Linked DNA regions of Homo sapiens. The protein of the gene in region 1 purifies or fractionates together with the protein of each later gene. This does not show direct contact. Each region holds a gene or a part of one and is shown on either strand. Other genes may lie near its edges. The genes, in order: EXOC3L2 and MIPEP.

The links.
Region 2: the proteins of EXOC3L2 (region 1) and MIPEP purify together in Homo sapiens (affinity purification with mass spectrometry; 2 studies listed by BioGRID and IntAct, with this or other methods). This does not show direct contact.

What each region holds. Positions count from the first base shown.
Region 1 is NC_000019.10:45,211,674-45,214,537, reverse strand, and holds the end of EXOC3L2 (exocyst complex component 3-like protein 2), read left to right. Parts: intron 1-1,180; coding exon 1,181-1,469; 3' UTR 1,470-2,168; downstream 2,169-2,864.
Region 2 is NC_000013.11:23,729,617-23,732,654, forward strand, and holds the end of MIPEP (mitochondrial intermediate peptidase), read right to left. Parts: intron 830-3,038; coding exon 732-829; 3' UTR 573-731; downstream 1-572. UniProt on the Homo sapiens protein: Cleaves proteins, imported into the mitochondrion, to their mature size.

The DNA.
Region 1 (2,864 bases):
AGCTGAGATCGCGCCACTGCACTCCAGCCTGGCCAACAGAGCAAGACTCTGTCTCAAAACAAACAAACAAACAAACAAACACACAAAAAAACTAGTGTACCAGATCAGCACACCACACCACCATGTGACAGTGCTGGATGGTGGTGGCAGTGGTGGTGGCTGCCGGAGCAACGCCAGTCCTTGCAGTGCTATTTGGGCAGACACATTCTCAGACATACTCAGAGAAACAGAACCCCAGAAAAACAAGGAGTGAGGCATGAGCGGGTTTCAGTTTCAGCACTGAGGGTGGGGGTCCTGGAATTGATTCAGGGTGGTCAGTTCTGATTCTGGGGGATAAGGTCATGTCCTTGGGAAGGCACATATTCCTGGAGTCCCATGGGGTCCCAAGAAGTCCCAGTATTCTTGCTGATGTGGAGTTTCTGAACTTGAATATTGGATCATGAGTCAGAACTTGAATCTGTAGCTAAGTTTAAGAGTTTGCTAGCTGGGTTGGGTTTAGGGGGTTGAGCTTGAGATTAGGAGGTACCTAGGGCTGAGGATTTAGGGGGAGTGGGGTACAAGGTTTCTTTCTTTTTTTTACTTTTGAAATGGAGTCTCGCTGTGTCACCCAGGCTGGACTGCAGTGGCGCGATCTCAGCTCACTGCAACCTCTGCCTCCCAGGTTTAAGGGATTCTCTTGCCTCAGACTCCTGAGTAGCTAGGATTACAAGCGCCTGCCACCACACCCAGCTTTTTTTTTTTTTTAATGTATTTTTAGTAGAGAGAGGGTTTCGCCATGTTGGCCAGGCTGGTCTCGAACTCCTGACCTCAGGTGATCCGCCTGCCTTGGCCCCCCAAAGTGCTGGGATTACAGGCATGAGCCACGGCACCCAGCTGAGAAGGTGAATTTTAATCACGAGCTGAGGCTTGGGGTGAAAAGGAAGATCCCAGGGCTGGTTCTGGGGTTGGTTGTAAGGGGGATTTGGAGATGGTTGGAAGTGAAGTTCTGGAGGGAGCTGGTATGAGGTGAGGGCCTGGGCAAGGGAGCTGATTGGAGGGAAGGCTCTGGAGGGGACACAGAGGCCCCAGAACTCAGGCAATTTCTGGGATAGGTGAGGGGGTCAGGTGGGGTCCACGGCTGGGTTGGGTGTGTGTCTAGAGCTGGGGATCTGCATGCACCTGTCTGTTCCTCTCCCCACAGGCAGAAGCACGTGGCAGCCCTCCTCGACATCCGTGGCCTGCGCAACACAGCCGCCCGCCAGGAGATCCTGGCCGTGGCCCGGGACCTGGAACTCTCTGAGGAGGGAGCCCTGTCACCCCCTCGGGACCGTGCCTTCTTTGCAGACATCCCTGTGCCCCGCCCATCTTTCTGTCTCAGCCTCCCTCTCTTCCTGGGCCGCCTCCCCCTCTCCCGGCTGGCCAGGCCCAGTTTGGCCTGTCTGCCTCGGCCCCGGCCTCCGTCTCTAGCGCGACCTCGGGCCCAGCGCTGAGGGTCACCCAACCGCCGGCCTTAGTGACCCCATCTATGCTGCTGACAAGCCAACCTCCCGTACGGCGCCCCTCCTGACTCCCTGCCTGGGACCACACACCCCTGGGATAGAAAGACCCTTAGATGTCTTTTCACCCAACCCCAAACTCCCTGTACAGAAGGGAAACAAACGCCAGGCACGGTGGCTCATGCCTGTAATCCCAACACTTTGGGAGGCTGAGGCCGGAGGATTGCTTGAGCCCAGGAGTTCAAGACCAGCCTGGGCAACATAGTGAGACCTGCCCCCTATCTCTACAAAAAATAAAAAATTAGCTGGGCACGGTGGTGTGTGCCTGTAGTCCCAGCTACTGGTGAGGCTGAGGCTGGAGGATCACTGGAGTTCGAGGCTGCAGTGAGCTATGACTGTGCCACTGCACTCCAGCCTGGTCAACAAAGCAAGACCCTTTCTCAAAAAAAAAAAAAAAAAAAAAAGGTAGGGGGAAACAGAGGCCAAAGAGACAAAGCATTTTCCCAAGGCCATGAAGCCTGTTCCCAGCACCTCCCCTCCTGCCATAGCCCAGAGTGGTGAGTGTCGTTCTGGAAGTCTCTACAGAAATATCCCAGCTCCCCCGCCCCTTTCCCTCACCTCAAGGTCTGGCCCCAATCCAATGTATTAAGGAACGTTCGATACTTAGAATAAAGAGGTTTCTATTTAACACAAGGAAGGGCTGAGTCCTGAGTGTGTTGTGGGGAGGAAGGACCGGGGAAGCAGGGCCCCGGGCCAGTGGCTTCTCACACACCCAAGGCCGGGCTGGGCTCCAGCTCCTGGGCAGGGTAGTGGAGGTAGAGGGAGGCTGCATGTGCTGGGAGCGACGCCAACCCATGTACACCTCCTGGCTGTGTGGCTCTGAGGCCAGGCCTTCGCCACTCTGAGCCAGGGTCCCTCGTCTGGTCAATCTCAAAGTGCCTGTCCATTCCTGGTCCTGGTGGCTCCATCTTGGCACACCCTCCCCATCCATCCTTAGCCGGGAAGCTGCCCTGTCAGGAGAGGAAGGAGGTTGGGGGCAGGGCTGGCGGCATCCAGGGCGCCCTCCTGGGTTGACGCAGGAAAGTCTCGGGGTGGGAAAATTTCCAGCCTCTCACCCCCAGCCCCGCCGGATCCTAGTCCCCACGGAGACCTTGAGGTCACCTCCCTGCTGACTCCTGCCCCTCCGGCCTGGGCTGGACAGCCCGTGATGGATGTTTCCTGACTTGTGGGATTTTTTGTGTGTATGTGGTTTTTTTTTTTTTCCCTGAGAAGTCAGAAAGAGGAGGCAGCCAGGGGTTAGCACTGGGGCTGGGTTTGGAACTTCACGCATGCACATTTGAACTTGGGGAGGTAGAGACGAGGGACTCTCGGAGCCCAAGGCTGTGCTTC
Region 2 (3,038 bases), on another chromosome or scaffold:
CAAAATACAGTATGGTATGCAATACTGTAAAGCAAATGAGTTCCAGATAAAAACAGACATGGTCTGTTTCCTGATTCACCAGTTGCTTGACACTGGTATGTCACTTATTAATTGTACCTGCACTTACTCATTCTACCTTCATTGCCAAGCCAGTCCTCTGTGTTCTGAGTCTATTTGCCTAAACATTCAGGAAAAAACAGTACAGATAATTACATGTATTTTGGAAACCACACTTGGTTTGTTGGTTGCCTGTAATTGACTATTTAAAGTGCATTTTCTAAGCCTACTTTAGATAGTGGTCTTAAGAAATGGTCATCATTCTTAAAAGAACTATAAGTGTAACCTGTCTGAAGACTGCTTCAAACTCTGTCTTAAACAATTTTGCTTTTAGTTAATTATTTAATTAAACCAATTAAAGATCCATGGAAAGAGGGAAAAGCTCAACAGGAGAGTGGTTATACTAAGGAAATGCCCATACCCTCCATTTAACAATGCCATGTAGAAGTGTTGTTGTTACTAGGTCAGAGATTTCCATGTGCTCAAATATTTGCCAAACAGGTGAAAAGCCAGAATAATTAAAACAAATTATTTATTCCAAGTTCTACCAGTTTAAAGTTTTTCAGAATTACAGAAGCGAACAATGAAATCAGAAACAAGCTCTCACAGCTGTAGCATTTATAACAAAGTCATTATCTACATGACCTTGATTTAAGAGGTGTAGAGTGTTTCTTTTATTCAGAATCCATGAGGAAAGTTTCGAAGTCCAGATCCAAGTCGGAAACGAGGGCACTTACGAAGTCATCAACAGAAGGACACTTCTGAAGCATACCTGCAAACAAAGGAAAGGTCAGAACTGCGTTCACCAGGAGGCAACAGGAAGCACAAAGACACAAAATCAAATCCACACACTAGAGGAACACTCTGGCTTTCTGAATTAAGACTCTGGCTGTATAACCTGAATGCAAGAACATTTTATAAAGTCATGGGCAGTGTGTGGGCCTTGGAGCTATTTATAATTTTAATGTATTTTTACTATCAAATCCATCCTTAGCTTAGAGATTTAGGCCTAAATATATTTCCTAAGGGCTATTATTTTTGCATATATGACTATACCCTTAGAGACTGATATTAGAAGACTGATTTTTTTTTAGTTATCTTTGACTGGGATGATTCACAATTTAACAAGTTTAATTACATATCAAGTTTTGTTATCAAGTTCTATACACTTTACAATCAATTAGATGTTAATTCTTTTATAGAAATCTTATATCAGAATCAAGTTATTGGCTCTCCTCCAGATTTCCCTGTCCCAGAGAACTCCTAGCTTTGCAACTTAGTAACTGTGTAACGCAGAAGTCACTTAAAATCTCTGGCATCCAAATTTCCTACAAGGTTGCTATAAGGATCAAACAAGAAGATGTAGTAGAAGCAATGAAGCACCATGCCTAGCATATATTAAGAATTCAATAAAAAGCTGAATTCATGTCCTTTCTTCACTCTAAAGAAGCCAAAAACAAAGATTGATGCAATTAACCTTATTGCTTTAACCTACATTCTTGGCAGGAAATGCTAACTGAAGGGTTGAACAGGCTCTATATACTGATATTTACTTTGGGAGATGAATTCTGTAAAACCATTTTCAAAATCAAGGCATTAAAAGATTGCAGGAATCCTCTATTGTTCTCTGAACCTGTATTGCAATTCAGTGAACATGAAGGAAGCATCTGTTGTGTGTAAAGGATCAGGCCAGGTCATGGGCATACAGGTGGGCAGGCTCAGTCACAACATGAAGAGTGAGAGTAGTCGGCTGGGCAGAACTGCATATCCATACGGCAGAAAACTAGCCTTGACTCCTACTGCATACCATACATAAAAACTAATTTGAGATGGTCACAGACCTAAGTGTAAACACTAAAATTATTATCTTAAAAAAACCGCATGAAGTATCTTTGTGACCCTGAAGTAGGTATAGTTTCTTAGGACACAGAAAGCAATGCATAAAAGGAAAAAATGTTAGATTTCATCAAAATTTAAAATGTCTCTTGAAAAGAAACCATTAAGCCAATGAGTAGACAAATGATAGTTGGAAAAAATACTCACAAAACATATCTCACGTAAGACTGGTATCCAGAAAATATAAAGAACTCCTTTGACCCATTGTAAAAATATGTTTTTTTAAATTACAAATTGACAAAAGATTTTACCTTCACAAGGTCAGGTTTTTCACAGAAGATATCTGAATAAGTAACACAACTAATAGGCACTGAGAAGACATTCAACATCATTAGTCACTAGGGAAATGAAAACCAAACCCACAATGAGATACTATTACACATCCACCAGAATAGCTAATTTTTTTTTTTTTTTTTTTTTTTTTTAAAGACAAGGTCTTGCTCTGTTGTCCAGGCCTGGACAACACAGCATGTGCAGTGGTGTGAACATGGCTCACTGCAGCCTCGACTTCCCAGGCTGAAGTGATCCTCCCGTCTCAGCTTGAGAGTAGCTGGAACCACAGGTGTGTGCCACCATGCCCAGCTAGTTTTTAAACTTCTTGTAGAGATGGGGTCTTGTCATGTTGCCCAGGCTGGTCTTGAACTTCTGGGCTCAAGCGATCCTCCTGCCTTGGCCTCTCAAAGTGCTGGGATTACAGGCGTGAGCCACTGTGCTACACCAAATGTTGACAAGGCTGTGTGCAACCTGAATTGTCATACATTTGTGGTGAAAGGATAAAATGATACAATCACTTTGAAAAAAGGTCTTAACCAGTGTCTTACGAAACTAAACATAGACCTACACTAGGACCCAGCAATTTCACTCCCAGGTATTTATCCAAGAGAAATGAAAGCATATGTCAACAAAGAAACAACTTGTACAACCCCAAGCTTGAAACAACCCAAGTTTCTATCAATAGGACATGAATACACACACTACAATATATTCATATGATGGAATATTACTCAGCAACAAAAAGGAACAAACTATTCATACATGCAACAACACAAACGGATCTCAAAAACATTATGCTGAGTGAGAGAAGC